Linked DNA regions of Homo sapiens. The protein of the gene in region 4 purifies or fractionates together with the protein of the main gene of each other region. This does not show direct contact. Each region holds a gene or a part of one and is shown on either strand. Other genes may lie near its edges.

What was found.
Region 1: the proteins of ASXL2 (region 4) and AHCY purify together in Homo sapiens (affinity purification with mass spectrometry, with the first as the bait; one study listed by BioGRID). This does not show direct contact.
Region 2: the proteins of ASXL2 (region 4) and HPRT1 purify together in Homo sapiens (affinity purification with mass spectrometry, with the first as the bait; one study listed by BioGRID). This does not show direct contact.
Region 3: the proteins of ASXL2 (region 4) and KRT2 purify together in Homo sapiens (affinity purification with mass spectrometry, with the first as the bait; one study listed by BioGRID). This does not show direct contact.
Region 5: the proteins of ASXL2 (region 4) and SEPTIN7 purify together in Homo sapiens (affinity purification with mass spectrometry, with the first as the bait; one study listed by BioGRID). This does not show direct contact.
Region 6: the proteins of ASXL2 (region 4) and PSMC3IP purify together in Homo sapiens (affinity purification with mass spectrometry, with the first as the bait; one study listed by BioGRID). This does not show direct contact.
Region 7: the proteins of ASXL2 (region 4) and MCTS1 purify together in Homo sapiens (affinity purification with mass spectrometry, with the first as the bait; one study listed by BioGRID). This does not show direct contact.

The regions. Positions count from the first base shown.
Region 1 is NC_000020.11:34,296,416-34,300,883, forward strand, and holds part of AHCY (adenosylhomocysteinase), read right to left. Parts: intron 1-4,468. UniProt on the Homo sapiens protein: Catalyzes the hydrolysis of S-adenosyl-L-homocysteine to form adenosine and homocysteine. Binds copper ions.
Region 2 is NC_000023.11:134,466,441-134,470,908, forward strand, and holds part of HPRT1 (hypoxanthine-guanine phosphoribosyltransferase), read left to right. Parts: intron 1-4,468. UniProt on the Homo sapiens protein: Converts guanine to guanosine monophosphate, and hypoxanthine to inosine monophosphate. Transfers the 5-phosphoribosyl group from 5-phosphoribosylpyrophosphate onto the purine.
Region 3 is NC_000012.12:52,643,140-52,646,684, forward strand, and holds the end of KRT2 (keratin, type II cytoskeletal 2 epidermal), read right to left. Parts: intron 2,431-3,545; coding exon 2,396-2,430; intron 2,296-2,395; coding exon 1,880-2,295; 3' UTR 1,419-1,879; downstream 1-1,418.
Region 4 is NC_000002.12:25,745,023-25,749,490, forward strand, and holds part of ASXL2 (putative Polycomb group protein ASXL2), read right to left. Parts: intron 1-4,468.
Region 5 is NC_000007.14:35,803,350-35,807,817, reverse strand, and holds part of SEPTIN7 (septin-7), read right to left. Parts: intron 1-4,468.
Region 6 is NC_000017.11:42,574,384-42,579,635, forward strand, and holds the start of PSMC3IP (homologous-pairing protein 2 homolog), read right to left. Parts: upstream 3,347-5,252; 5' UTR 3,304-3,346; coding exon 3,270-3,303; exon of another isoform or gene 3,179-3,269; coding exon 3,078-3,178; intron 2,920-3,077; coding exon 2,830-2,919; exon of another isoform or gene 2,697-2,829; intron 1-2,696. UniProt on the Homo sapiens protein: Plays an important role in meiotic recombination. Stimulates DMC1-mediated strand exchange required for pairing homologous chromosomes during meiosis.
Region 7 is NC_000023.11:120,610,169-120,614,636, reverse strand, and holds part of MCTS1 (malignant T-cell-amplified sequence 1), read right to left. Parts: intron 3,627-4,468; coding exon 3,559-3,626; intron 2,455-3,558; coding exon 2,373-2,454; 3' UTR 1-2,372. UniProt on the Homo sapiens protein: Translation regulator forming a complex with DENR to promote translation reinitiation.

The DNA.
Region 1 (4,468 bases), on a different chromosome or scaffold from region 4:
ATAAAAGGTAATATTTCAGGTGTTGCCACCTAAAATACTAATCTACATCCTCTGGCTTCATGGTTACTAGTAACAAAAAGTATTTCAGGTGCTATCTGCCACCTAAAATGTCTCGAATTTGTTCAAATTCTCAGGCAGGAAAGAAGGATATTATTATGAGCTAACTCACTATCTCAATACTCTCCCCTACCACACTGGTCCACTTCCAAGGTCATACCCTAGGTCAGTCCCTAGGTCAAAGTTTGCAGACTTCCCCGGTAAGGGATGTTCCTCTGGCATGCTTGTAAATCTCCCCTGGAAAATATGATTCAGCAGGTCTAAGACTCCTGGTGATTTTTATCTTTAGGGAAGCTGAGATCCTGCCAAACACCCAAAGAGGTAGGCGGTGGGAGGCAAAGGACTCTGTAGAGAATTTAATAATCTAAGAATTTAATAATCAATAAAATTGTCTGTCAGTCAGCTTCCTACAGTGCATTTTAACAATTTCAGAGATGAAACACGCCTCCCGCATGAGAGACCACTCCGGCTGTGCCTCAACTCAAGCCACCCACCCCAGCCCTCCTACCCTAGTAGGCCATCACCAGTGATAGCTCTCCTTGGAAATCTGGACTTCAAGCACCCAACTCTAGCCACGCCTCATCTTTCTGGTTTTCTCCTTCCAGAGGCCAAGCTCCAACAAGGCTGTGGCCTGTCAGGTGAGAACCTCTATTCAATTCATCCTACCAATTTCTAGTGTCCCTTCTACCCCCTTTCCCTTTGAGAACTCACTTGGCAAAACTCTCAGCCCAATTAAACCCGACCCTCCACTGCACCGGACCCACTGAACCCAGCAGGAGGACAATCACAACCCCACCAAGACATCATATTTAATTAATTAATTAATTAATTATTTTAGAGACATAGTCTGGCTCTGTAGACCAGGCTGGGGTGCAGTGGCGCGATCTCGGCCCACTGCAACCTCCACCTCTCAGGTCCCGGTTCAAGCAATTCTCCTGCCTCAGCCTCCCCAATAGCTGGGATTACAGGAACTCGCCACCATGCCCAGCTAATTTTTGTATTTTTAGAGGAGACGGGGTTTCACCATGTTGGCCAGGCTGATCTTGAACTCCTGGCCTCGTGATCCACCTGCTTCAGCCTCCCAAAGTGCTGGGATTACAGGTGTGAGCCACCACACCTGGCCAAGATATCATATTTATTAAGACCATAAAAGACACATAGCACATTGCAGCAATCCTATGACATTTTCCTAGTAAATTTACTCCCATTTTCTACTCTCCTCAACCCTCCAACACCTTTCCCCATTGAATGACAATCTCACTTCCCAATTCACTGAGATGAATTCAGAACCAGGCCACTTTTCCCCTATGGAATCCACTAGTCACCTATAGCAGTCATCTACAGCTTCAGACCAGGCACTCTTTCCTGTTACCACAGATGAGTTGAATGGGCGCGGTGGCTCACACCTGTAATCCCAACACTTTGGGAGGCCAAGGTGGGCAGATCACTTGAGGTCAGGAGTTCAAGACCAGCCTGACCAACATGGTGAAACCCCGTCTCTACTAAAAATACAAAAATTAGCCGGGTGTGGTGGTGGGTGCCTGTAATCCCAGCTACTCAGGAGGCTGAGGCAGGAGAATCACTTGAACCTGGGAGGCAGAGGCTGCAATGAGCTGAGATCATGCCACTGCACTCCAGCCTGGGTGACAGAGTGAGACTCGGTCTCAAAAAAATAAAATAAAATAGATGAGCTGTCCTGTGGGCGGCAAGCCACCCAGGCACCGAGGCAAGAGACAGAGGACACGAGCTGTTCCAGTATAATAAAATATAAAACAAGAATAGTTATACTAGATATAGATCTTATATATGATTATATATGAATATCATTAATCATTAGTTTGTAGCAATTACTTTTTATTCCAATATTATGATAATCCTTGCTCTATAATCATAGCCTAGGAAAAACCAGGCCATACAGAGATAGGAGCTGAGGGGACATAGTGAGGTGTGACCAGAAGACAAGAGTGCGAGCCTTCTGTTATGCCCGGACAGGGCCACCAGAGGGCTCCTTGGTCTAGCGGTGACGCCAGCGTCTGGGAAGACGCCCGTTACCAGGCGGATCGTGGTCCAGCGGTAGCAAAAGGTGTCAAGGAACAACACCCGCTACTTAGCAGACTGGGAAGTGGCGGCGGCGGGAGGGGGGGGGGTGTCTCCCTTTCCCCAGGGGAGTTTAGAAAAGACTCTGCTCCTCCACCTCTTGTAGAGGGCCTGACATCAGCCAGGCTCGCCCACAGTTATCCAGAGGCCTAACCATCTCCCTGTGATGCTGTGCTTCAGTGGTCACACTCCTAGTCTGCCTTCATGTTCCATCCTGTACACCTGGCTATGCCTTCTAGATAGCAGTAGTAAATTAGTAAAAATACTAATAGTCCCTGATATGCAGAAATAATTGCGTAAGCTGTCTTTCTCTCTGTCTCCTCTCCCTCCCTGCCTCGGCTGCCAGGCAGGGAAGGGCCCCCTGTCCAGTGGACACGTGACCCACATGACCTTACCTATCCTTGGAGGTGACTCACATTCTTTACCCTGCCCCTTCTGCCTTATATGCAATAAATAACAGCGCAGCCCAACATTCGGGGCCACTACCGGTCTCCGCGCATTGATGGTAGTGGTCCCCCGGGCCCAGCTGCCTTTTCTCTTGTCTCTTTGTCTTGTATCTTTATTTCTACACTCTCTCGTCGCCGCACACAGGGAGAGACCCACCGACCCTATGGGGCTGGTCACTACACTATCCCTGCTCCATGGGGCCTGATTCCATATCCCCTCTCCTCCTTAAGGACTTCCATACTCCACTAAAACTGCTCTTCCGTCCAAAGACCAGCCTGATCTCCATACCTGATGCAAAATTACCTAAGACCATGTTTCTACCAGCAGCACAGATTGCATGAATGACTTGCCCTCCTTCCTGAAACCCTTTCTTTACTTGGCTTCTGTGACTGTCCTGTGCTTTTCCACCTACCTTCCTGGTTCCTCTTTAGCTAACAGACTTTAGGGTTTGGGGGCCCTCAGGGCTCCATCATCTCCCAGTTCTCTTATGTTTACCAATTAAGCTCATCCAGTCTTATGGCTTTACATACCTTCTCTACGGGGATGACTCCCACGTATTTATATCCAGCCCAAACTACTCCCCTGAACTTGAGACTCGATGTGATCCAACTGCCTCCACAGCACCTCCACTTGGATGTCCAGTTGGATCTATTATGTGTCATGTTGGAGTCCTCATGGCTCCTTTGCCCCCACTACCGGTTACTCTCCCAATCTTCCCATTTTAGGAAATGAAACCACCATTCAACCAGCTACTCTGCCCAAAAACTTAAGATTTGATTCCTCTTTTCCTCTTTCACCTCAATCAGCACGTTTTTGGCTCAACAAGTGAAATATATAAGCAATCCAACTGCATCTCACCACCTTCATCTAAACTGTCACTTCTCAGGCTGGGCGCGGTGGCTCACAGCCTGTAATCCCAGCACTTTGGGAGGCCAAGGTGGGCGGATCACCCGAGGTCAGAAGTTCGAGAGCAGCCTGGCCAACATGGTGAAATCCCATCTCTACTAAAAATACAAAAATTAGTTGGGCGTGGTGGTGGGCACTTATAATCCCACCTACTCAGGAGGCTGAGGCAGGAGAATTGCTTGAACCTGGGAGGCGGAGGTGGCAGTGAGCTAAAATAGCACCACTGCACTCCAACCTGGGTGAGAGGGAGACTCTGTCTCCAAAAAAAACAATAAAGAAATAAATACACTGCCACTTCTCAGTTGGACACTGCCACACTCTCTTCACTGGTCCCATGCTCTAACATGCCATTCTCCCCACAGCAGCCAGAAGAGGGAGGCTCTTAAAAATTTAAGTTACATCACCTCCATCATTCTACTAAAGTAAACAAAACTAAACAAGCAAACCCTCCAATGGCTTCCCTCAATCTTCGGGCCCTATCTGCATGACTGCCTGCCCCTCCTCCATCTCTCCACTTTCCCCACTCACTAGCTGTTCAACACACAGGCTTCCTGACTGACTTCAGGCAAGCTCCACTCATTTCCACCTCAGGGCTTTAACCCAAGCAGTTCTCGGCCTGGAAGGCTCCTCTCAAGCACCTAATACAGTACCTGGCACACAGTAGGTGCTGAAAAAAACCTGGAAACAGGAAAGAACCTAGTATATCCCTGCTAGAGGAACCAAGAGTGCACCAGGGTGACTCAAATAGAGGCATAAGATGAGTTGGGACTTCAGTCCCAGTGAAGTGGGGAACCTACAGTTTTCAGGGGCCAGCATTCAGAGACCAGATTTGTCTTTTGAAAAGACCCCATTGGCTGCTGTGTGGATCTGCGGAGCAAGAGATCCAGGGAGACCTGCAAGGAGAGAGACCAGACTGGGGTGGTGACCGTGGAGACAGACAAGTGGCAGATCTGCTCACATA
Region 2 (4,468 bases), on a different chromosome or scaffold from region 4:
AGACACCAGAGAGCTTGTTAGAAGAGGTCATGTGAGCACACAGTTAGAAGACCTTCAAGCCAAAGAAGAGGCCTGAGATTGAAACCTACCTTGCAGGTACCTTAATTTTGGACTTCCCAGCCTCCAAAACTGTGAGAAATAAGTTTCTGTTAAGTCACTCAGTCTGTGGTATTTTGTTATGGCAGCCTGAGCAGGTAGTTGTTCTTTCAGAAGGTGTTGATAATAACCACATGCAACACCAAGTCACAAATAATAAAACAGATGTAACTTATATTCATACAGAAAGTTGGGCACTGCCATTGCCTTGTTGGTTTACACGGCTGTGCTAGTTCAGTAGCAGAAAGGTGCTGGTCTCCTTTACTCAGTTTACAATCTAGGCAGTAGAATGTAATCACTGCTTTAAACTTGATACTGCTTAGGGAGAGAATCATTGGTGCTGGGTAACTTTGGGTTCTAGGTTTACTTTTTGTGTATATATAACTGTTTTTGGTAAATCACAAGTTTCTGGGCTTGTCGAATTAGATTTTGTTACAGATTATGAGCTTTATTATGCTATACAGTTAGTTGTATGTATATATGCCTTTCCCACTAGATTTTAAGCTTTTTTTTTTTTTTTTTTTTTGTGACGGAGTCTTGCTCTTGTCGCCCAGGCTGAAGTGGAGTGCAGTGGCACAATCTCGGCTCACTGCAGCCTCCACCTCCTAGGTTCAAGCGATTCTCCTGCCTCGGCCTCCCAAGTAACTGGGACTACAGGCACGTGCCACCACACCCGGCTAATTTTTGTATTTTTTGTAGAGACAGGGTTTCGCCATGTTGGCTAGGCTGGTCTTGAACTTCTGGCCTCAGGTGATCCACCCGCCTCAGCCTCCCAAAGTGCTGGGATTTACAGGCATGAGCCACCACGCCCAGCTATAAGCTCTTTAAGGGTTGTAAATTTATAATCATTCTTTTACTCTCCTGCAAATTCTGTTGCACACTGCCTTAATCAAGGTAGATGCTGAATGCATTTTTGTATAATTGAATATGTTGCAATCCCCAACTCTCTCCAACTGTTCCTGTCAAAGCAGCCACTGGATTGTTAACTAATCCATATTAGATGGGGTTAATTAATATCAGATGGGACAAGTAAGGGCTAATAAGATTATAGGCCACCAAGTAGATTTCTGTCTAGCTCTTATAGAGATTGAGTTTATTGGACCTGTTTGATAGGAAGTTTTGGTGTTTGGGATGATTAAAACTGAAGTTCCTATTTATTGAATTATACCTATTTATATTATTTCATATCAGTGGTCCACATGCAAGTGAGGCTTCTGAGACAGAGTTTGAGTTCTCTCTTCAACTACCATAACACTTAACCTGTATCTTTTTTTTTTTTTTTTTTTTTAGACGGAGTCTCGCTCTGTCACTCAGGCTGGAGTGTAGTGGTATGATCTCGGCTCACTGTAACCTCTGCCTCCTGGATTCAAGCAGTTCTCCATGTCTCAGCCTCCCTAGTAGCTGGGATTACAGGCCTGTGCCACCATGCCTGGCTAATTTTTTTTTTGTATTTTTAGTAGAGACGGGGTTTTACCACGTTGGCCAGGCTGGTCTCGAACTCTTGACCTCGAGCGATCAACTTGCCTTGGCCTCCCAAAGTGCTGGGATTACAGGCATGAGCCACAGCGCCCAGCCGTCTTTTTTTTTAAATAGCAATTTAACACTGTTCACAGTTACTCATGTACATGTCATGCCATCTATTACACTGTAAGTTCTGTGAGGGTAGCTGTATCAAATTTATCTAACTCTCTCTAGTATGCATGACATAGTAAGTATTCAATAAATATTTGCATATTAGTGATAAGGATACAGGTTCTGAATAGTGGGTCCTTACCATTTAAGAATTAGTATTTGATGGCCGGGCGGGGTGGCTCACGCCTGTAATCCCAGCACTTTGGGAGGCTGAGGCGGGCGGATCATGAGATCAGGAGATCGAGACCATCCTGGCTAACATGGTGAAATCCCGTCTTTACAAAAAAAATACAAAAGAATTAACCAAGTGTGGTGGTGGGTGCCTGTAGTCCCAGCTACTGCTTTGTGAGGCTGAGGCAGGCAGATCACCTGAGGTGGGAAATTCAAGACCAGCCTGACCAACATGGAGAAACCCCATCTCTACTAAAAATACAAAATTAGCCGGGCGTGGTGGCGCATGTCTGTAATCCCAGCTACTCGGGAGGCTGAGGCAGGAGAATGGCGTGAACCCGGGAGGCGGAGCTTGCAGTGAGCCAGGATCGCGCCACTGCACTCCAGCCTGGGCGACAGAGCGAGACTCCGTCTCAAAAAAAAAAAAAAAAAAAAAATTAGTATTTGATATTTGATCATTAAATATGAATTAAGAGGACTTAGACTTTTTGTTAAATGTCAAGCTGGGAAAAGTTGTCATTTAAATGAATTGCCTCTTATTTAATTTCGTCTGATGATACATTTTGTTTTTATTTTGTAAAAAATTATTTTTTTTCTTTTTGGAGACAGGGTCTTGCTCTGTTGCCCAGGCTGGTCACAAACTCCTGACCTCAAGCAATCCTCCTGCCTTAGCCTCCCAAAATGCTGGGATTACAGGCGTGAGCCACCTCGCCCGGCCTTGTATTATGATACATTTTGAACAACTACAAGTAGACTTGGTATAATGAACCTGCACGTACCCATTGCCAAGTTCTGACAACTGTCTGTCTATAGCCAATTATGCATTTCTTAAATTAGAACCCCCCCAATATACCCAAATATATATATATGTGTGCATATATATAGTAAGTTGTAACAAAGTTGTGAATTCATACCTGAAGTATCTCAAGTGATGCAAGTTTTATGAATTTTTGTTTATGCCTTTTGGGAAGAGTTGTATTGACAAATTTTTTATGCTTAAAGTAAACCATAAATCAAAAAAATAAAATCTAGGATGCAATAAAACAAAACAACTTCTTGACATAAGTATGGTATGTAAATCTGTTTTGATTGGAAATCAATTTGTTATATTGCCAGAATTCCTGTTTTAGAATACATCTCTGCTGATCTGTCTGTATTCTTAGACTGCATATCTGGGATGAACTCTGGGCAGAATTCACATGGGCTTCCTTTGAAATAAACAAGACTTTTCAAATTCTTAGTCGATCTGCAGAACCTGTAGCCAGGCACTGAACCATTTTGATAGATGCAGTAATCGTTGCAAGTGTATATTTCAAGGAGTTCTGGCTGGGTCCTAGTTTATGCTTGTGGCAGAAGCAGTGAGTAACTGGGAGGAAGTTGGTGAGTAAGCTTCAAGGAAGAAGTCATTTTTAGTACTCTGGATCTTCCTGATTTTAAAGCACTACAAAATGGTGCATTTTCATTCTTGTCAAGTGATAACAGATATATTCTGATGAGCCTGAAATGAATATATATTGTATCATTTTTATAATATCTAGCAAGGTTTGTATTTTCCTAGAACTTGAACTAAATTTCAGTTCATAAAATTTATAAAATACTTAGTTGTTGTAAAATATTTTTGGAATGTTCACATAGGTGACACACAAATGTCCCATTTTCATTCTTTCTATAGTAAATATGTTCTGATATGTGAAGGTTTAGCAGATGCATCAGCATTTAATCCTAGAGGATCTGGCATAATCTTTTCCCCCAAGAATAGAAATTTTTTCTGCTTATGAAAGTAGTACATGTTTCTTTAAAAACAAATCAATATTGACTTCTGCCTGCTGTATAGCACTATGCCTCCACCTGGCCATGACCAGGGGCATGTCCTGGTCCACCTACCTGAAAATGTTTGCAACCAGCCTCCTGGCCATGTGCACAGGGGCTGAAGTTGTCCCACAGGTATTACGGGCCAACCTGACAATACATGAAGTTCCACCAAAGTCTGAGAACTCAGAACTGAGCTTTGGGGACTGAAAGACAGCACAAACCTCAAATTTCTCAGCACTGGAAACCTCAAAATATAACTGAATTCCATAAATAAGATTTTAAGTCTTAAATATGTATTTTTAAATGTATTAAAAGTCAAGCTGCTTGTATTTAAGCACCTAATACAATGCTTAGGTTGTAAAAGGAGATGCTCAATAGGTACTAACTGATATATTGAGATTTAATTATGGTTTGACCAATATTTATTGGAAACCGCCAAAGCTTAAATCATCAGCTTCTTGAATGTGATTTGAAAGGTAATTTAGTATTGAATAGCATGTGAGCTAGAGTATTTCATTCTTTCTGGTTTATTTCTTCAAATAGACTTTGAATATAATGGTGAATGGGTATTATAAATTAACTAATAAAAATGACATTGAAAATGAAAAAATATATATATTAAAGTGTAGAAAGTGACCAGGCGTGGTGGCTCACACCTGTAATCCAAGCACCTTGGGAGGCTGAGGCAGGAGGATCTCTTGATCCCAGGAGTTCAAGACCAGCCTGGGCAACATAGCGAGACTTCGTCTCTAAAAAA
Region 3 (3,545 bases), on a different chromosome or scaffold from region 4:
AAGCCTTTTAAAAAATGAATAAATTGGGAGTGGGAGACCTGGTTTCTGTGTCCACCCTGGGCCTTACCTTTTTCCTCACCTAAGTGAAAAGTTCAAATACACTGATTACCAAAGCTCCTGTCCAGCCTCAAATGTCTGGGACCAAGTCCCTGTTAAAGGTTGTGTTCATGTCTACACTATGTACATACCCGAAAACAGCCAGCTCCTCACACCACTTCTTCCCAACCTGCACCCTCTCCCCACAGACCTCTCCCCACGACTGAGGCCTGGGTGGTTCTCAGGGACCTTCTCTGATCAGCGGATCACTTTAGAATGCTCAGCCTGGAGTCTTGCCACCTTGCCACCTGCAGCCTTCAGAGCTGTTCCTGCAGCACCCTCATACCTGGGTCCTGGCTGGTCTGGAGGCAAGTGAATGCATCTGTTCTCTATTAGAGCCGTCCCTGCAACCTCTGGGAACAGGAAGACGGTCACAGACTCAACTAAGGACTCTCCAAGGTTTTAAAGCTGGGGTGGAGTGGGAGAAAAAAGGACCCTCCAGGAGTGGTTCTGAGTGGCTTTAAGCCACAGCTACTATAACCAAACGCCACATACAGAAAGCTAAGCTGACCTAGCCTGAGCCACCAACTCCCATTTGGGCAACTCTGGCCTGTCTAACACCAACCCCAAGCATGCCCAATCCCACCTGCCCAACCATTCCTGAACTCCCTGGAAGCCCTGCTCAGGTGACATGGCCTTCCTGAGGAAGGGGCTGAAGGCATCTTCACACCCACAGGAGAAGGCCAACCTGATGGCAACATCCATGCGACAGGCCCCGGGGGCTGCGGTGAGAGAGGAGAGAAGGGCTTGTTTGCTGAGTGTGGTGGGACTCCGCTGACAGGAGGGGTGTCCTGTGAAAATAGAAGTGGCTGTTTTGGAGGCCACTTTAGAGTCCTCCAGACTCTTCCCAGGTATCCTCCTCCAGGCTTGCTCAGAGCCCCCGCAGAGACAGAGGCCAGGACCTACATCAGGCTGAGGAAGGTCTGCCTTGGAAGCTCGGAGCTTGGAAACTCACCACGATGGTGCCAGGGGCTCAGCGGTTTTGCCCTGAGGAGAAGTGATCCCGGGCCAAAGCCTTTGTGGAAAAGGGAGAGGGCAGTCTGTGGGAAATGCTCAGGAAGAATGGGTTTTTCTAGAAAAGAGACTCTTCCACAAATCTACCTGTCCACCTCCCGGCAATGCCATGGCCCTCAAGTCTGGTAAATACTTTCTGAGAACCACACACCCATCCCCAGGCTCCCATTCATCCAGAGGCTGGCGCCTGGGCTTCCCTCAGGGAGGCACGCTCCTCACCCAGGAGCCCCTCCTTAATGCCCAAACCTCCCTTGTCCATGGCTGCCCACTTCCACCAAGGTTTGACATCACGCAGACAGCACATGATATGAATTGCAAATGAGGTTTATTATGAAGACCCCCAGACCACAGCACTTCCGAAAGCAGAGTGGACAAGAGGAGCTATATACACAGAAACACATTTCCCCCCAGCACTGCCAGGCTTAGAGATGAAATCCCTGGATGGGCCTGGGTCCTCAACAGAATACACATCTGGAAAATGGGCAATGCAAAGAGGCATGGTGGGGGCGGGAATGGGCATGGCTAGAAGCACAAACCTAGACAGCACAGATTCCGCCCCAGAACACAGAGGCGTCACTGGCTCTAACTAACTGGTTTGGAGAGAAGATCTTTCAAAAACTGTATGTGGACATTCTTTTCCCTCAAAGTGCCATCAGAGATAAATGACAAAAATTTAACTTGCTGCCAGTTAGAGGTACAGAGACAGGCTTCTACATTCTGGAGTGGGAGAGTCTGGGTTGGGAGAGTCGGTGGTGGTGGGGGCTCATCTTTATCTAAAAGAGAAGGTCACGCTGGAACCAAAAGCTTCACCTGAGCTACCCTTTACAGAGCTAGAACCCCCACCTCCAGAGCCATATCCTCCTCCAGAGCTGGAGCCTCCTCTAGAGCCACCTCCAGAGCTGTGTTTTCCACCTCCAGAGCCATATCCTCCTCCAGAGATGGACCCTCCCTTAGAGCCACCACCAGATCCGTATCTTCCTCCAGAACCACCGCCAGAGCCATATCCTCCTCCAGAGATAGAACCTCCTCCTCCACTACCGCCTCTGGAGCCAGACTGTCGGCCTCCAGAGCCATAACTGCTGCTTCCAGAGCTGTATCCTCCTCCGGAACTGGACCCTCTACCTCCAGAACCTCCAAAGGCAGCCTTGGATGCCACATTTGATGAAATGGTGCTGCTTGTCACAGCTGCAGAGAGAGGTGGTGTTACCACAGAGATTATGACTGCCTCTCCCTGCCTCCACCTGACACAACACCCCATGGAACAGGACCACACCCCATTACTTACACACAGTCACATTGCTGCTGAGGTCTCCAGACATCCTGTAAGGGAGAGAGAAAAAACAAGTTGTGGTGGAACACTTAGGTTCTGTATGCATGTTGTTTTACCACTTCCACCCGCAAATGTGCAGTTTAGCCTCTCTAAGCAGCCACCAGGGCTTACACACCCCACTTTCTTCTATGCTGCCAGGTCACACAATGACGACAGACCCCCTTCCATTTATGCACAACCTTGCATGTCAATCCCTCTCAATTTTTGCTCTGATAAAAAATGAACAGTTGCGTGGTTGATCCAAGGTCACTGAAAAGCAAATTCACTTCCTACTTTGCAACCCATTTGTGTATTTAAATCCATCTTGGAGAGTCTGTTATTCAGAATCCATGCCACATCAGAAATTATACAATGAGGCTGCCTGTGAACATTCAGTTCAGAAAGAACTGTGACTCTGTAGAGCCTCCCCATTCCTCTCTTCTTCCCACCCTCTTCAGCTTCAACTGAAAACTTTCCCACTTCCTCTTACAAGCTGGGCATAGGAGGCATTGCCTCTAGACAGGGACAGAGCAACCTCCTGAAGAAAGCCACTCCCTGTTTGTCATGCTGGCTTGCTGATGGCCTGGGGTAGCTTTTCCCCTTCCAATTGCTTCAGCCAGATTAAGTCACCCAAGATGCTGATAATACGGACAAAGGTCTCAGACTACAGAGGAAGCAAAGGGTGCCTCTTTGAAAGTTAGCAAATGGTTCCATTTGTCACTCCAGAAACCTGCAAAGAACTGGGGCTGGCACCTGCTCCGGTCAGCACGTCCCCACCAGTCAGCACATTCCGAGACATCATCTCCCCCATTCTGGGTCACCCGGTGGAGGGCACAGAAGCCACTCACCCTATGGACCTAGAGACCAAAGTTTCAGACTGTCTAGGACTAACCTGTTTTCCCATGATTTTGTTTTCTCTTTCAGAAAAGACCAGGATGTTTAACTTACTGCTTAGTTTAATTTAATGTGCCTTATGCATCATTTCATGTTGATAAATGTGTAACTCTCCAATCATGCTTTATGTCCTGAGTTTCTGCTTGGGGAACACAGAGAATGTCAGTTCTCAGTTGTCAGGAGGGCCTGCCCCATTCTCTGCTTTCCCTGTCTTTGCCTCCAGCCCTGGCTC
Region 4 (4,468 bases):
CTGGAAGGAAGACAATGTGTGATCTATAGGAGCCCCCACCATGCCCATACACATAAAGGAGTATGTACATAATGTTTGCCAGCCATTCTCATCTCTGGCTGGTATTATATTTACTTGCGCAATTTTAAAATATATATGCTCTGGGTCCTATCCCAAAAAATTACAAATCAGAACCCCCAAGACCCTAGGAAGTCTTTTTTTTTTTTTTTAGATAGGGTCTTGCTCTGTCTCCCAGGCTGGAGTGTAGTGGTGTGATCTCGGCTCACTGCAACCTCAGTCTCCTGGGTTCAAGTGATTCTTGTGCGTCTGCCACCCGAGTAGCTGGGATTACAGGTGTGGGTCACCACGTCTGGCTAACTTTTGTATTTTTAGTAGAGATGGGGTTTCACCATGTTGGCTAGGCTAGTCTTGAACTCCTGACCTCTTGTGATATACCTGCCTCGGCCTCCCAAAGTGCTGGGATTACAGGCATGAGCCACAGCACCCAGCCTGAAAAAGCCTGGCCAACACAGTGACTCCAGAGGGAGCCTCCAGCTCAAAAAAAAAAAAAAAAAAAGTTTCTAAAAAGCTACTTGTGAGATTCTGATGTCTATCAGGTTTGAAACCATTGATTTCCTTCTTTTTTTTTTTTTTTTTTTTTTGAGACAGTCTCACTCTGTCACCCAGGCTGGAGTGCAGTGGCAGAATCTCAGCTCACTGTAACCTCTGCCTCCTGGGTTCAAGTGATTCTTGTGGCTCAGCCTCCCGAGTAGCTGGGATTACAGGTGCCTGCCACCACACCCAGCTAATTTTTTTGTATTTTTAGTAAAGATGGGGTTTCACCATGTTGGCCAGGATGGTCTCGAACTCCTGACTTCAAGTGATCCACCCACCTCGGCCTCCCAAAGTGCTGGGATTACAGGCGTGAGCCACCACGCCTGGCTGAAACCAATGATTTTCATACCATAAAATCATCATGTCTGAAACAAATCTGCCTTCTGTCCTGAACAATACTTTGAAAGCTATTAGAGTTACTAATAATTCAACAAGATGTGGACTCTTCTAGTAACTGGTTGAGTTTAAAGGAGCAAATAACTGTTAAGATGTTCTAAAGCATTTAATTAAAAAAAAATTAACCCACTAAACCCTAAGAAAATGCATGCCATTTTTCTTAATGTTTTTAAATTAAGAATAATAAAGTCACTAAACATTTTTCATTATTTGCAATACTCATTTCTCAAAAGGTCAGTAGTCCTCAAAAACTGATTCTCTAATTCCGAAGTTAGAGCCATGGGACTTCATAACAGGTGTCACAGAGTATATATTTTACATCAGGAAACCTATTTAATCTCTCTAAGAGCTAAATCTATTTCACATCCAATTCGAACAAGCCTAGATAGTATATTTACTCATCACATAGCATTTTAGAGGCTGCCTACAGTAAGAAAGAAGCAGTTATTGTCCCTTATTTATATCATATGAAAGAAACTGCAGGGGAAAAAATGAAAAAAAAAAAAAAGATAAAACTAAAAAAGTAAATACAAGAAAGGTGTTTAGGGGAATTTATATAGGGACAAACAACTTTACATAAGAATACTCGTGAGAGTAACTCTATACCTAACATAATACATCATATCTATCATAATAACACAATCATTAATAACATGTTGAAATCAAATAAGAACAACCATTATAAGTGGTTAAAATGAAAGGTTTCGATACCTAAAAATAAGTTTCAGTTACTTACGTAAATAGCCCTATTACCTGATTATGCAAAATAAATCATATTTCTTTTTAAGTACAAAACCAAAGCTGTCCAGGCATTGATAACAATTTAATTTACTGAGAAGCCCTACCCCGGGAGAGCAGAGAGATTCAATCCTTTTCTTTTTAAGTGTACAGTCATCCCTTGGTATCCATGGGGGATTGGTTCTAGGACCCCAGAGGATATCAAAATCTGAGGATGCTCAAGTCCTTTATATAAAATGGCGTAGTATTTGCAGATAACCTCCACATATCTTCCCATATATTTTAAGTCATCTCTAGATTATTTATAACACCTAACATAATGTAAATGCTATATAAATTGTTATACTGTATTTTTACATTTGTATTTAATTTTCTTTTCCAAATATTGCGATAGGTGGTTGGTTGAAAATACTGCATTAACCTTGAGGATGTGGAACTTGCTGATACAGAGGGCTGACTGTATAGGGAATGTAAAACATATAATGTGCATGTGTGTATATATAGTTTTTATATACATTTGTATATATATAAAAGTTGTAACTAAGTTATAACATTTATACTACATTGTGAATTTTGTTTTCTACTACTACATTGTGAATTTTGTTTTCTACTTAAATTTTGTTTAAAAGGTTTTGTTCTGTTATAAATTACATTAAACTTTGTCTAAGAAAGCAGTATTTGAGATAGGGTCTAAGAGAAGAGAGTTACTAAAGACACTTCTGGAGAAGTCTTTTTTGAGGGAGATGAGGGAGAAGAAAGGAAAAGAACTGAAAAAAGTAAAATTATATTAACTTGGTCACAGTGGATTAAAGTTTCTGTGTAATCCCTTTGGACTAGCAGAAAGCAGACAGAATATGATGTAACCCAGCCTGTTTACAGGTGAGAAAATAGAAATGATGGGTCTTAGCAACATTTATAGCAAAACCTAAACAGTTACTCAGCTCTCAGGTCTGGAGATAAGCTGTGAATGACATTGAAGAAAAGTTTCTAATATTTTTATAAGAAAGAATAGTAAAAGTGATTATAATAAAAATCAGAATCTCTGGCGATGCATGTTAATGGTAGAAAAAAAAATAAGAAAAAACCCCCATAGATTCGTAAGTGCTAAAATCACCAATTTTAAAGAGCAATGAATTGGCCAGGCGTGGTGGCTCACACCTATAACCCTAGCACTTTGGGAGGCCGAGGCAGGTGGATCTTGAAGTCAGGAGTTCAAGACCAGCCTGGCCAACACGGTGAGACCCCTTTACAAATAATTATTTGTAAACATACAAAAATTAGCCAGGCGTCGTGGCTTAATGCCTATAATCCTAGCTACTTGGGAGGCTGAGACAGGAGAATCCCTTGAATCCGGGAGGTGGAGGCTGCAGTGAGCCAAGATTGCATCACTGCATTCCAGCCTGGACGACAGTGCAAGACTCCATCTTGGGGGGCAAAAAACAAGCAATGAATAAAAAAGTAATAGGAAGTACAGACGGTGGCCCACGCCTGTAATCCCAGCACTTTGGGAGGCAGAGGAGGGCAGATGACTTGAGGTCAGGAGTTTGGGACCAGCCTGGCCAACATGGTGAAACCCCATCTCTACTAAAAAATAAAATTACAAAAATTAGCCAGGTATGGTGGTGCATGCCTGTAATCCCAGCTACTCAGGAGGCTGAGGCAGGAGAATCGCTTGAACCTGGGAGGTGGAGACTGCAGTGAGCCAAGATTGTGCCACTGCACTCCAGCCTGGACAACAGAACGAGACTCCGTTAAAAAAAAAAAAAATACAATGAGAATGGGTCAAGTTCTGGTAAGTGAATCTTTCCAAGGAATACTTCCTGACAGAACTAATTTTGGTTCACCTCAGTTAAATAAAAAGGGGGAAAAAGTACTTTTACTAGTCTTATTTTTCCATTTATATCCTAATGAGTAATATTCAGTGCGTTGCCTCTTAAATTCCTTGGTAAGAAAAATAAACACTATTTATTAAATGAATGAACTGCAAGCTGATATTAAGCACAAGCCCAAGTATTAATAAACCTTTAAGATCAGAAGTAAAAATGTGTTTGGGTTTTAAAAGGCATTGTATATTAAGACAGTCAAAGATACTACCTAGAAGAATTTGAAAGATTTGACATGCAGCAATACAAGGCTAACTGGAAGTTAATCACATGCTAAGCAGCAGAGCTTACCAAGACTATTCCATGTTACTAGTGTCCCTCAAGTAACCAGTAGTGACAGAAGACAGCTACACATATTTCCTTTAATAGGAGGGAGCTAAAGGTAGTTCCTGATTCACAGAACATCAAGTCAGTTATGGTAGCAAGAAAAGGGTAAACTCAAATACCATGGCTCTTGGTACAAAGATAGGATCCTTTGATTACACCAATAGTCTCCTCATGCTTAGTCTCACATTTCTTATTTTGTCAATAATTTTCATGATGGTCTGGAAGCATGCATTACAGACTACCTGTAGGGGAACCGAAGGAAGCCCAAGACTCTTCCACCCTGGGATTGTGATCAACTCTTCTCTGCAATATCTGCGTGAACCCTGGCCCAAAAAATCTAAGAGGTCCTGAGGAGACAGTAGGACAGTTGGCTGTCAATGTTCTACAGAGGCTGAGAATTATAACTAAGTTTTTGGAAGTCCATTTAAATTATATTTGGTCTAAGAGTCTGAGATCAGGTGCCTCTGAGCTCAAGTAGTGAGCACAGGGGTGGTTTACATTAGATGCCCAGGTACCTTCCTTATGCAAAC
Region 5 (4,468 bases), on a different chromosome or scaffold from region 4:
CAATAAAATTTTTAAAAAGCAACCAGGTGCGGTGGCTCACACCTGTAATCCCATCACTTTGGGAGGCCAAGGCAGGTGGATCACCTGAGGTCGAGAGTTCGAGACCAGCCTGACCAATGTGGAGAAACCCTGTCTCTACTAAAAATACAAAAATTGGCAGGGCACAGTGGCTCACGCCTGTAATCCCAGCACTTTGGGAGGCCAAGACGGGCGGATCATGAGGTCAGCAGATTGAGACCATCCTGGCTAACACAGTGAAACCCCGTCTCTACTAAAAATACAAAAATTAGCCGGGCGCGGTGGCGGGCGCCTGTAGTCCCAGCTATTCAGGAGGCTGAGGCAGGAGAATGGTGTGAACCCGGGAGGCAGACCTTCTTACAGCGAGCCGAGATCGCGCCACTGCACTCCAGCCTGGGCGACACAGAGAGACTCCATCTAAAAAAAAAAAAAAAAAAAAAAAAAAAAATTCAGCCGGGCATGGTGGCACATGCCTGTAATCCCAGCTACTCGGGAGGCTGAGGCAGGAGAATCACTTGAACCGGGGAGGCGGAGGCTGCGGTGGCTGAGACTGTGCCATTGCACTCCAGCCTGGGCAACAAGAGCGAAACTCCGTTTCAAAAAAAAAAAAAAAGTTTTAAAAAAGCAATTTCAGAAATGAAAACAGAAACATCATAACATCCATGACCACAGCTTTCTTGATTGCTATGGTGTCAAAGTGTCTGATACTTCCTGGAGTCAAATACTTGTTAAATCAATGAACAAAGTTTACAAAAGTTTCAAATTACCACTGCAGGAATATTTCAAATATATTTTATAAAGCACAGCAAAACTGGTGGAAAATAGTTTTGATTTTCCTGAAAACAGTCAATCAGAGCCAAAGATTTTCAGGGCCCCATCCCAGGCCTATCATTTATCAAAGTGTGAAACACTATGAGAATCTGTATTCTTTGAAAAACACCATGACGTTCATTTTATTTGAAATCTTATATAATAAAGAAGTTATAGGGATGGGGAGACTTTAGAAAGTTACCCAGAAAAAACACTTTAAATGAGTCAACTAACAAAAACAAAAAAACTAATTCATGGCTATTAGAAATCTTATCAGTGGTTACCTGGGGCAGTAGAAGGAGAACTCCAACAGGGCACAAGAAACTCTGGGATGGTGGAAGTATTCTCTATCTTGATTAGAATAAAGGCTACAAGATGTGTGTATGCACATCAGCAATTCATTGAACTAAATACTTAAAATCCACGTATTTTTTTCTATGAAAGCATACAATAATGAAGTTACTTGATAAGTCGGAAAGCATTTGGAAATGTAGACTCCTGGGTCCCTCTCCCAGAGATTGCTAATCAATGGGTCTTGTAGTGGGAACCAGTTAATCTGCATTTTTAACTCCAAGCCATGGTTGACCCTTCAACCATACTTTAGAAAATAATGACCTAGCATAATGTTCTATGTCCAGTAATTACTGATCATGCTTTGCAAAAATATATCAATTAATGATAAACTTTTAATACAAAAAAATCTAGGTAATTTTGATTCCCAAGTTTAGGAAATACTAAGAATATTAAGTGGTAGGAGTTCCAGGAAGAAGTAAAAAGTAAGACAGTTAAGGAAGCTTGTTCCTTCTTCCCCGTCTCCCACAATCCTTCAATGGCTCTCCATCACCTAGTGCAGTGGTTCTCAACCAAGGATGATTCTGCTCCCCCACGTGACATTTGGCAATGTCTGTAGACATTTTTTTCATTTCACAACCAGAGAGAGCATGTGCTGCTGGCATCTTAGCACGATGACAGCAGGGATGCTGGTAAATACTGTACAATGCTCAAGACAGCCCTCCCCTCCCTCAAATAATTACAAAACCTCAAATGAGAAACTCTGACCTGGAGCCTCACCTCCAATAAAGCTACCAGAAGTAGTCAGTTGTGTCCCAGAGTTAAACAAAACAACAGAATTAAGATGTTACAACTTCAGGAAAGTCCATTTTTACTTCCAGATCAGTGGGGAAGGAGGAAGAATATCATCTTTATATTTCACATAAAGCAAACAAACATTGAATAAAATGCAAATGACACATGAATACTTAAGACTTAGAAAACTTCAAAATAACGTAAGCAGGAGCAGCTTCAGGCTATCCCCCCAATCACAGGGGATACTTAATTCTCAGCTTTCAAAGTATAGTATTTTTAAAGTTAACACTGGCCTAAAACATAATACTGTACATAAACTTTAGCATGACAGTCTGTTGCTGCAGCATAGTTTAACCTAGTGCTATGCAAAGTGTGGTCTGTGGACCAATGAGCCAGTCTGTGAATTATCAGTTTATGTCAGAGAAACACAAATTGAGAGCACAAAAATGGAAAATTTAATAGCAGAATAATTTTATGTCTATTGAAACTAATAATAAAAAATTGGGGCTTATAGTTTATCTTTCTTATTCCATTTCCACTTTTTTTATTTGCAGTATAGTCATGCAGTATGTCCAACGTTTGGTCAACAATGGACATTTATGACAGTAGTCCCATAAGATTACTATGGAGCTAAAAAAATTCATATCACCTGTGATGTCATAGCAGTCACAAGTTCATAGTACAGCACATCATCTTTTCTATGCTTAGAAGCACAAACACTTGGCCGGGCGTGATGGCTCACATCTATAATCCCAGCACTTTGGGAGGCCGAGGCAGGAGGATCACTTGAGGTCAGGAGTTCCAGACCAGCCTGGCCAACATGGTGAAACCCCGTCTCTACTAAAAATACAAAAATTAGCTGGGCGTGGTGGCGAGTGCCTGTAACCCCAGCTACTTGGGAGGCTGAGGCAGGCAAGCACCTGTAATCCCAGCTACTCGCGAGGCTGAGACAGGAGAACTGCTTGAACCCAGGAGGCAGACAGAGGTTGCGGTGAGCCAAGATTGCACCATTGCACTCCAGCATGGGCAGCAAGAGCGAAATTACGTCTCAAAAAAAAAAAAAAAAAACAAAAAAAGAAACACGCTTACCATTTGTCATAATTGTTTACAGTAGTCAGTACAATAACAAGCTATACAAGCTCATAGCCTAGAAGCAATAGGATATAGCCCAGGTGTATAGTAGGCTCTACCATCTAGGTTTGTGTAGGTAAAATACTCTATGATTTCTCAATGTACCGTATTGTTAACAACGCCTAACTGTAGTTTTTAAAATTACAATCTAACCTACTCTGACTGGTGTATCTATTGAGTAGCAAAGCCAAGATTTGCATCCATATCTAACATCAAAGCCCATGTTCTAAATCATTATTAAGATTTTGAACTCAAACCCCAATGTGTAATCCCTACATCTGGATAGCTGGACTGCACCAAGTGTAAGTCACAAGGATTTAGTGTGTGTCTGGTCTACGGCCTTCAACACTTAATGCCAGCCAAGCTGCCTCTTTGGCCCCTCTTCCCCAAGCCCATGCTCAAAGCTTAGTCTCCAGATCTCTGATGATGCAAAAGGACACAGGAAGACAAAAACAAAGAAAAGATTCATCCTCAAGGCCTAAAGCAGAGTCACCGAATGCTACCCTTTTCTTTTGGAAGCCACCCTGGTTTCTGGCTATGGGGGATAACATCCTCTCAAATAGGAGTAGGCCTCAGATCTCTCTAACCATGCGAGCTACATGGAGTACAGGATAAATGAATCCAAAGTAAGAAAAAGCCACACGGACTTAACAGTCTTTAATTTTAAAGTCTTCCTTCCTCACACCAAGACCTCCAACCCCTAACATAAGGTTCGAAGACCTTAGATTTGACTCATCCATACTGTACATTTTGACCACAATCCTTAAAAAAAATTACTTCCCCACCTAGTACACAATACCTGAAAGAAAATTTAATCTCCCTCAAAATATTAAGTGCAATGTCCACTAATGGGTCACAACCTGCAGTCTTCAAAACACTGCTGTAGAGTTCAATGGTCTACATTTAACAGTATGCTCTCATATAGCGAACTAAACCCATAATCAAACTACCTTACAATTCTGCTCCTTAAAAACATAATTTTTCTTCAGTTTCTATTGTATAATAAAGTTTATCTTTACAGTCCAAACTTAGTACAAAAAAAGAAGTATACAAAAAGTTTTGTCTCAAAACTTAGTAAAAGACATAAATCATTAGTTTAAAATGTTCAACTTATAATCAAAAATTGAAGATAGCTTATTAATTCAAAATGTGAAACACATTTCTCAGCAGGCAATTTAGTCAGGTAGGAATTCTCTATCGGCAATTCCCAGAATACAGTCTACAATGAATATGTATATCATCAAATTATACAAAGTCTGAAACTAATCTGCTCTACCACTATCCTTATTCTGACTGGTCCCTCATCTGATCACTCTCCATTACTGAGACCTTAGAAGCCATAGATGTAACTCTTCTTCCTCCCTCTTCTCCCCCAAGCTTTGTTGTTGTTGTTGTCCTAGCATATTCCTCTAAATTCTCCTAG
Region 6 (5,252 bases), on a different chromosome or scaffold from region 4:
AGCGGCCCCACTAAAAAGGTAGGAAAGAAAAGCTGAAATCTAATGCTTGTCCTTAAGCTACTAGGTTGACAGGATACTGATTAGGACAGAAATCTTCCCATTTAGTGATAAAACCACTACCTGGGCTGAAGCAGTTAAGTAACATTGTTCCCACGGTGGGGAAACCTAGATCATGGGTTTCCATAATAGATAGAAACTGGACAGGTGAAGAAGCATGATGGATGGGATGGATGGACTTCTTTTCTTCTTCCTTCCTGTCCTTTCTTCCCATCCTTCTTTCCACCTTCCTCTCTCCCTCCTTCCTTCCTTCCTTTTTCCTCCCTCCCTCCCTCCTTCCCCCTCCCTTTCCCTCTCTCTTTCTCTCTCTTTCTCCCTCCCTTCCCTCTTTTCCTCTCTTTCTTTCTCTGTCACCCAGGCCAGAGTGCAGTGGTGCAATCTTGGCTGACTGCAACCTCCGCCTCCTGGCTTCAAGCGATTCTCATGCCTCAGCCTCCTAAGTAGCTGGGATTACAGGCGCGCACCACCAAGCGCAGCTAATTTTTGTATTTTTAGTAGAGAAGGGGTTTCACCACGTTGCCCAGGCTGGTCTCAAACTCCTGGGCTCAAGTGATCCATCCGCCTCAGCCTCCCAAAGTGCTGGGATTACATGCATGAGCCACTATGCTGGGTCTTGGGATCCATGTAGATAAGGGATTCCAGTAAGTCTGAGGAGCTTCTCTCATGAGGGGCCATTGCTAGAAAAGAACTGCACTGGGGATCAGTGTGGGGGTGGGGGAGGTCACATCAGTTGGTGATGGGGAGCAGGTTGAAAAAGTATGCCAGCCAGTGCAGTCTGGACTCTACACTTGGGCAAGGTGAACCTATAGGGCAGAGGCCAGCAAACTATGGCCAGCAAGCCAAATCCTGCCAGATGCATGTTTTTGAAAACAAAATTTTATTGAAACAGCCCCACCCGTTCATTTACATAGTCTACAGCTGCTTCTGTTCTACAGTGGCAGAGGTGAGTAGTTGTGGCAGTTGTACAGCCAGCCATGACAAGAGATACATATGGCCCACAAATCCTAAAAATACTGTCTGGCCATTTGCAGAAAAAGTTTGCCAAACCCTCCTTTAGAGAATTATCTTTAGATGAGTAACACAATGCAGCCTGTTTTAGGAAAGTCAGCCTTAAAAGTGGTTTGGTTCAGTTTAACGAGTAATATCTGCTGGATGTTAGATACTGCGGAGGTGCTGATCAGATAAAAATGAATTGAGAAATGGGGTCTGCCCTAGAGGAACTTCAGTTGAATAAAGGAGACAAGTAAAAATTGTAATACAGCATGCCTCAAAAGAGGTAAGGGCCAGGCTGGGCACAGTGGCTCATGCCTGTAATCCCAGCACTTTGGGAGGCCGAGGCGGGTGGATCACGAGGTCAGGAGATCAAGACCATCCTGGCTAACACGATGAAACCCCATCTCTACTAAAAATACCAAAAAAAAAAAAAAAAAAAAATTAGGCTTCGTGGCGGGTGCCTGTAGTCCCAGCTACTCTGGGAGGCTGAGGCGGGGGAATGGCGTGAACCCAGGAGGTGGAGCTTATAGTGAGCCGAGATTGTGCCACTGCACTCCAGCCTGGGTGACAGAGCGAGACTCCGTCTCAACAACAACAACAACAACAATAACAAAAAGAGATAAGGGCCTGAAAAAGAAACAATTAGCTCGGAGCATTCAAGGAAGATTTCTGGAAAAGGTGATGTCTAAGTGAAATCCTCAAGGAAAGAAAGAGCTGGCCAGGAAGAGAAGCAGGTACAGGGAAGACAACATGCAAAGGACAGAGCAGTAAAACACACCAGAATTATCTAGTGTTCGTGGATAGAAAAATAATGAGGATTGGTGAGGCCAGAGGCTGGCTGGGGCGTCTTCCGGTGCCTTTTACATGTTTTTTGCAGCACTAGAGAGCCATTGAAGAGTTTTAAATAGGGAAGGTGCATGACCAGATCTATTTAGACAGATCATTCTGACTGCAATGTTTAAGAGTTTAAGATATGTTTGAAGAGCCAAGATCTGTTAGGAGGATACTGCAACAAATAAAGAGGGCGTGAACTAGAGCAACCATGGCAGATGGAAAGGAGAGTGGATTCAAGAATGGAAAAATTAGCCAGGCTCTGTGGTTCACGCCTGTCCTCCCAGCACTTTGGGAGGCCAAGACAGGAGGATCACTTGAGCCCAGGAGTTGGGACCAACCTGGGCAGCACAGTAAGACCCATCTCTATAAAAATTAAAAAAATAAATAAAAACGGAAAAATCAGCTGGACTTGATGGTTGACTAGTAAAGGAAGTCAAGAATTGCTCCCAATTTCTGGTTTGGGTGAAGAGTAATTCCATTAGGGGAGGAGAATGTTAGAAAGAAACCAGTCCGGGGTGGGGGGAAGATGAGGCATTCTACTGTGGCAATTTTGACTCTGATATTAATGCCTGACAGATTCCAGCTGGAGGTCTGGGCTGGAGAATATAAATTTGATATGTGTGTTTAGAGAATCGGATGGAGGCAGGAGGAACATCATTTGGCAGAGGGTGTTGCTAATGTAGATGATAAGGAATAAGAGCTTTGGAGCGGAAATGGATCTTGGTAGCAACAATACAGAATCTTCTGTCATCCATCATATTGTAAATCTGGAAACCTCGTGAAGTTGGGATCCTAACAAGAGGAGTACACACCTTGATTTAAGGATGGTGGCCTAAGACAGGTGAGTTTTCCATGGGGGGCCTTGTCCCCAAAGAGTTCACACCAGGAGTAGATTCACCCGTTGTCGGGCTCTCATGGGTGACAATCGGCGCAAGTTCTCCTCACCTGATCCGCAAAATAGATCTTCTGCTTGCCGTACATCTTCTCTTTGATCTTGCCTTGTTGCGCCAGCTGCTCCAGCGTCTTCACCACCACCTGGCAGAGGAGAGAGAAGGAGCAATCAGAGGAGTCTGAGCCTGGGTCTGGGGAAATCCAGCCAGTGATGTGGAAAACGCCCAAGGCTCCAAAGGGCACGACCCCAGCCTGAATCCAGGGAGTCCGACGGAGAGGGAATCCCGGGAGAAGGTCCTCACCGCCTTGCCCAGTCCGTGTTCCCGCTGTAGGTTCCCGAACACATCCTGGGAGCTGTAGGGCCGGTTCTGCTCCTGCAGGTACCTCAGGAGGATCCCGGCGGCTACGGAGAGAAAGGCAGGGGAGGGGGCCACTCAACCGACCTCCTCACCCACTGCCCTCCCGGGTCTTCCCCGCGCCCACGGCGCCGTTACCTCCCGCCGCAGCTTCTGCCCGGCCTTTACTCATCGCCTTTCCCGCCACCCAACTCAGAAAGCCGGACGTTGTAGTTGCTCGGGGCGACGGCTCCTTCCGGCGACGGGGGCGGGCCTCGAACGGTGATTGGCTGAAGGGGAAGCCTTCCGGAGGAGCAAAGCGACCCCTCCCGGACTCCATAGTTCATTTCAGGTCGGAACTTGCGCATTCGGGCCGGACCTCAAGCCATGGGCCTCTGCGAAGGCGCCGGCGTGCCCACGGCTAAGAAACTTCCTCTTTCTGCTCCCGGGAACGAAGGCTGTAGCAGAGAAGGCCTTCAAGTTTCGAGACCCAGTTCCAGCCGCAGCTGAGCACTGGTGACCTTGAATTAAGTCTAATGTTGGGATTGGAAGACGCTTCAGACATCCGCTGCCGCCCTGGGCAAGCGACCAGCTCAAGGTTACCCCACAGGGACGTGCTCTGGTCCCACGGTCCAGTGCTCTTTTGTCGGTTAGTTTTGTCATTTGTAAAATAGGAACAGTAGATAGTGGTAGGAAAGTGGTTGTGAAAACTTAATAGAAAGCTAAGCGCCTTGGTCGGGCGCAGTGGCATGTCACCCCTGCAATTCTATCACTTTGGGAGGCTGAGGCGGGCGGATCGTTTGAGCCCAGGAATTCGAAACCAGTCTGGGCAATATGAAACCCCATCTCTGCAAATAAAGTACAAAAAATTAAGAGTGGTGGCGCGCTTCTGTGGTCCCAGCTACTCTGGAGGCTGAGGTGGGAGGGTCACCAGAGCCCCGGACATCGAGGCTGCAGTGAGCCACTATGAGCGCGCCACTGCACCCCATCCTGGCGACAGAGCGAGACGCAGTCTCGAACAAAAAAAAAAAAAGTGGGAAGGGGGGACAGCTAAGCGCCTTGGAGAGCAACCACCCTTATTTGCCTAATACCGAGCTTCGCACCCAGGGGGCACTCGACACCTACTGTAGTTTGGACGCCAAGGAACGATAGGGTTAGGAGGGGGCTACTGTTCAACCACAAAGCTTGTGGAAAAGTTTGTTAGCCCAGACAATCTCAGGGCAACACCTGGCAGGTGCTTTCCACCCCTGACCACAGTGGCCAATGGGACAGAGCCTGAAATAAATATTTCTAGTTTCTGAGGTGAGCTGAAGGCCAAAGAGCAGCTGTCCCTGCAGCTCAGACCATCCAGTGAAGGAGTAAGGTGCTACTTTTTAAAGCCTTCTGCTACCTACAACCTCCTTAGCCTTTAAAACGTGTGCTTGTCTCTGCACGTTTAGGAGACAATATTAAGAATTAGAAATGAAAGGGCCGAGCGCGGTGGCTCACGCCTGCAATCCCAGCACTTTGGGAGGCCAGGGCGGGCGGATCACGAGGTCAGGAGATCGAGACCATCCTGGCTAACACTGTGAAACCCCATCTCTACTAAAAATACAAAAAATTAGCCAGGCGTGCTGGTGGGCGCCTGTAGTCCAAGCTACTCAGGAGGCTGAGGCAGGAGAATGGCGTGAACCCGGGAGGCGGAGCTTGCAGTGAGAGATCGCACCACTGCACTCCAGCCTGGGCGACAGACCAAGACTCCGTCTCAGGAAAAAAAAAGAAATTAGAAATGAAGGAAATACAGGCTAAATACTAGCCAAGAGTGCCAGTTATACTGATGGTGGGGCTCTCACAAGAAGGAAAGTAGCCTCATACTATGGTGATGTTCTGGCCATCACGAAGTAAAAATAGGGGTGGGCTGGTGGGTCCCTCATACCTGGGCTTCCTCTTTTAAGGCTATCACTTCAAATTAATCAGAACTCAGATTTACAAGAGAAGACCTATCAAGGGTAGGACACCATTCAGCATCAGTCTCTTAAAGATTGTTCTCATACAAGATTTATTCCCCAGCACACCCCTCCCCTCCTCAGTTCACAGTGGAGACTATGGAGATTCAGGGCAGGATCCCTCAGGTACAAGAAACACCTTCCGAAGATTTTGCTC
Region 7 (4,468 bases), on a different chromosome or scaffold from region 4:
GTCAGCAAAAAATTAAACTATCTGTTGAAGAAACCCCCCTGGGAGATGACTTACAAATGAGTTCCTGATGAGACTATTTATACTTTCGTGGACCAGGAATAAATAATATGGTAAGCTGCAGAATAAAACTGTCATAACATAAGGAAAACTACATGGAACTTGAAAAGGATATAGGAAATAAAATATCAGGGCACCTCTATGGGCTAGGAAAGAGATGAGATTTTGGCAGAGATAAGCATTCTAATTAATGATGAAGCAGGAAAAATTCTCCAAGTCTTACCTCAGCACAACTGAAATATTACCCCAATTTATCAATCTTCCTTTGCTCATACCTGTGTTTACCAAGTAACTTCCTGTTTCCTAATTGTTTACCATAGGCAGACCTATCACTATGAATTAATACATTTATATTCTAACTGGGGAATCTCCAAGTCTCTCAAGTTTCATCAGTGGGAAATGGTTTCTCAAGCTGAGGGTCAGACCCTGGATCTATGTCCACCTATGTTACATCCTGGGAGACCCAGCTGGAACAGCCAGCCAAATGATCTCTCTCTTTTTGCTATCCACCCTCACCTTTCTCACCAACTTCTAACTGTAACACAGGTCACCACAATCTTGTATATGTCTGTATCCATCTGAAAAATAAAATCACATGTCATATATTGGTAAACAACCAAATGAAGATGGCTAAGACACTAGAATAACAGCAAGGTTATTAGGAAGAAAAATGGTCTTTATCAATAAATAAATCCACAACTGCTCTTTTAACTCCCCAAACAGATTACTGTTCTTACTAAAGCAGGTCCATGTCCCTCATATTCCACTTATAGAAGATATACATTATTTAAGGAGTCTAGTGGGGACCCAAATCCAGATGTTCTGGGCATCTGTTTGGTATGACTTTACTCAAAAGAAGGCACTAAAAAAACTGAACCTGAATCTGATCAATCTTATTTGTTTACAGGATATACAGGAGGCATAAAAACAAGTTAATGACTTCACAGTGATACAATCAACAAAATCCAGAATATGTGTGGAAACTTTAAAGACAAAACAACTAGATTTCTTAAATAATTTAAGGGGGAAAAGAAAAGGTAACTTATAAATTAAACAGACTTCAATAAATAACAACCAAATGCAATGTATGAACCTTGTGTGGTACCTATTTCAAGCAAACCAACAGTTAAAGAGAATTAACAGTCTAGACAGTTGATCATATTAAGAAACAGTTCAACTTTTTAGGTGTGATAATGGTATTGTGGGGTTTTTCTAATTTTTAAAGATACACACTAAAGTAGTTATGACGCCAGGCATGGTGACTCATGCCTATAATCCCAGCACTTTGGGAGGCTGATCACTTGAGGCCAGGAGTTCAAGACCAGCCTGGCCAACTATAAAATATATAAAAATTAGCTGGGCACGGTGGCTCATGCCTGTAATCCCAGCACTTTGGGAGGCAGAGGGGGACGGATCACTTGAGGCCAAGAGTTCAAGACCAGTCTGGCCAACATAGCGAAACCCCATCTCTACCAAAAATACAAAATTAGCCGGGCATGGTGGCACGTGCCTGTAATCCCAGCTACTCAGGAGGCTGAGGCACAAGAATCGCTTGAACCCGGGAGGTGGAGGTTACAGTGAGCCAAGATCGTACCACTGCACTCCAGCCTGGGCAACAGAGCAAGACCCTGTTTCAAAAAAAAAAAAAAAAGAATAAAGTAGTTATGGATGAAATGATAGGATGTCTGGGATTTGCTTCAAAATAATTGGGGGGTGGGGAGAAATAATTGAGGTATAGATGAAATAAGACTGACCATAAACTGAAACTGGGTGATGGATATGGAGAGGTCCATTATACTATTCTCCAGACTTCTTAATATGTTTAGAATTTTCCATTGAAGTTTTTTTTAAAAAAACAATCAACAAAACACACACACACACACACACACACATACACACACACACACACACACACACACGAGAATGAGCACTGCTGGGTCCCCTGGAGTAATAGAATAAAATTCCTAGTCTAGTTTCTAGCCCCATTTAACTAGACAGTTTCTCTAGAGGTCTACCATAAAATGGCAATCCATTGACCAAGTCCTGCTCTTCACTCTTATATCATTAGCCTAAGAAAGGACATTAGTTGTATGAGTTTGCTTACTTACCAGATACCTTTTAATGTCCAAGTTTGCTACCCAATTTTAACTTGAGTTTAAGAAAACTTAAAATAATTTCTGAAGCTAACAGAATTTTAGCATCTGGTGAATTTATTCAGCATAACCACAGGCATTATCTTCATGCTGTCACACACAGACACAAACACAGATACAGCACAATATCCATATTTAGCCCAAGTGCATTCCTTCTGAGGCTCATTTATATGTCTTCATATGCCACAGCCCATCATTTAAATAATGGATATTTTCAATGCCAATTCCTTTGTTGACTTTCTCACTGTAGAAGGAAAAAAAACACATAAACATACTTTTATGCATTTTTATAGTCTTACTCGTGATAAATATAATTCAAAGTATATTGTTATTTTTTAATTATTAAGCCACAAGTAAAGAACTTATTGACATCACAATTACATTGTTGTTTATATTAAACTACATTACTCTGTGGCAGCTCATATCTAAAAGTGATTTTAGTGATCTAACTAGTGGGTCTATAGAACCAGAGTAACAATGTCACAAGACTAGGGGAATATCAAAGTGCTACATTAACCCTGAAACAAAATTAATACCACTAATTTGGTCATCAAATGGGTTCTAAAATTTTTAAATATACTGCCTATGTTTTGATAATATATCTTTACTAGTTCTCTAAATATTCTACATTTCTTGTATTACCAGGTCAGGATATAAGATACTGTGTGGTGGTGAGATATATCACTGTTTTTAAAACTAGCAGTAATGACCAGGTGCAGTGGCTCACACCTGTAATCCCAACACTTTGGGAGGCCGAGGTGGGTGGATCACTTGAGGTCAGGAGTTCGAGACTGGCCTGGCCAACATGGTGAAACCCCATCTCTACTAAAAATACAAAAATTAGCTGGACATTATGGCGCACACCTGTAATCCCAACTACTTGGAAGGCTGAGGCACAAGAATCGCTTGAACCTGGGAGGCAGAGGTTGCAGTGAGGCGGGATCGCGCCACTGCACTCCAGCCTGGGCAACAGAGTGAGACTCCATCTCAAAAAAACTTAAAAAAATAAAAATAAAAATAAATAAAATGAAGCTAGCAGTAAAACATCTTCCCTCCTCCCCCAATTTAAATGATACTAAATAAGATTCCTAAAGTACCACGTACACACATATAAAACAGCTGTGTTGGCACATGGGTTCTTTTCAGTGCTTAAGAAAGACTACAATCCTGAAGACAAAATAGGTTTCATTGGCTTCCTAAGTGTTAGGAAATATCAGAAATGAAGCTTCTGTGCTTGGATATTTGTGTAATGTGGTATGCATGATAGCAAATTTCACCTGTAATTCTGATGCTTCCTGGGTTGGTTACCCATATATCAAAAGTTAAGGGGGCCTAAAGTAAGACTTACATGTCTTCTGCAGACATCTTCATGACTCCAACACATAGAGCATGCTGTTTTCCTTCTGCCATGATAGCCTGAAAGAACACAGCTAAGAAAACTATTTATCAAAATGCCTTGGGGCCTCCCCATCAAGGGAAGGGTGTCAAATAATGATCATGTTACTAGTTAAGCCACTTGGAACCCCTCTTGTGTCTTCTCCTAGACCATTAACTCCTTGAGAGCAGAGACCTAGCAGAGTCTGTGGGTACACTGTAAATACTCAGTAAATGCTAAATGAATAAATCTAATAACCCCTTTTCTTTCAAGTCAAATGTTAATACTATAACCCCATGCTAACAAAACCAGAATAAGTCACACAAAAAAGGAGTAAAATTTCTTGCACATAAATACTAAAAACTGTGAAATCAATAAATATTAATTGTTCTGATTAATTATTCTGATCACTGACTAGTGGGGATTTTTGTTTGTTCTTGAGACAGAGTCTCACTCTGTTGCCCAGGCTGGAGTGCAATGGCGCAGTCTTGGCTCATTGCAACCTCTGCCTCCCGGGTTCAAGCAATTCTCCTGCCTCAGCCTCCCGAGTAGCTGGTGCTACAGGCGTGTGCCACCACACCCAGCTAATTTTTGTATTTTTAGTAGAGATGGGATTTCACCATGTTGGCCAGGCTGGTCTTGAACTCCTGACCTCATGATCCGCCTGCCTCAGCCTCCCAAAGTGGTGGCATTATAGGCGTGAGCCACCATAGCCGGCCGTTTGTTTTTTTGAGATGGAGTCTTGCTTTGTCACCCGGCTGGAGTGCAGTGGCATGATCTCAGCTCACTGCAACTTCTGCCTCCTGAGTTCAAGCAATTCTCCTGCCTCAACCTCCCTAGTAGATGGGATTACAGGCGCATGCCACCCCACCCAGCTAATTTT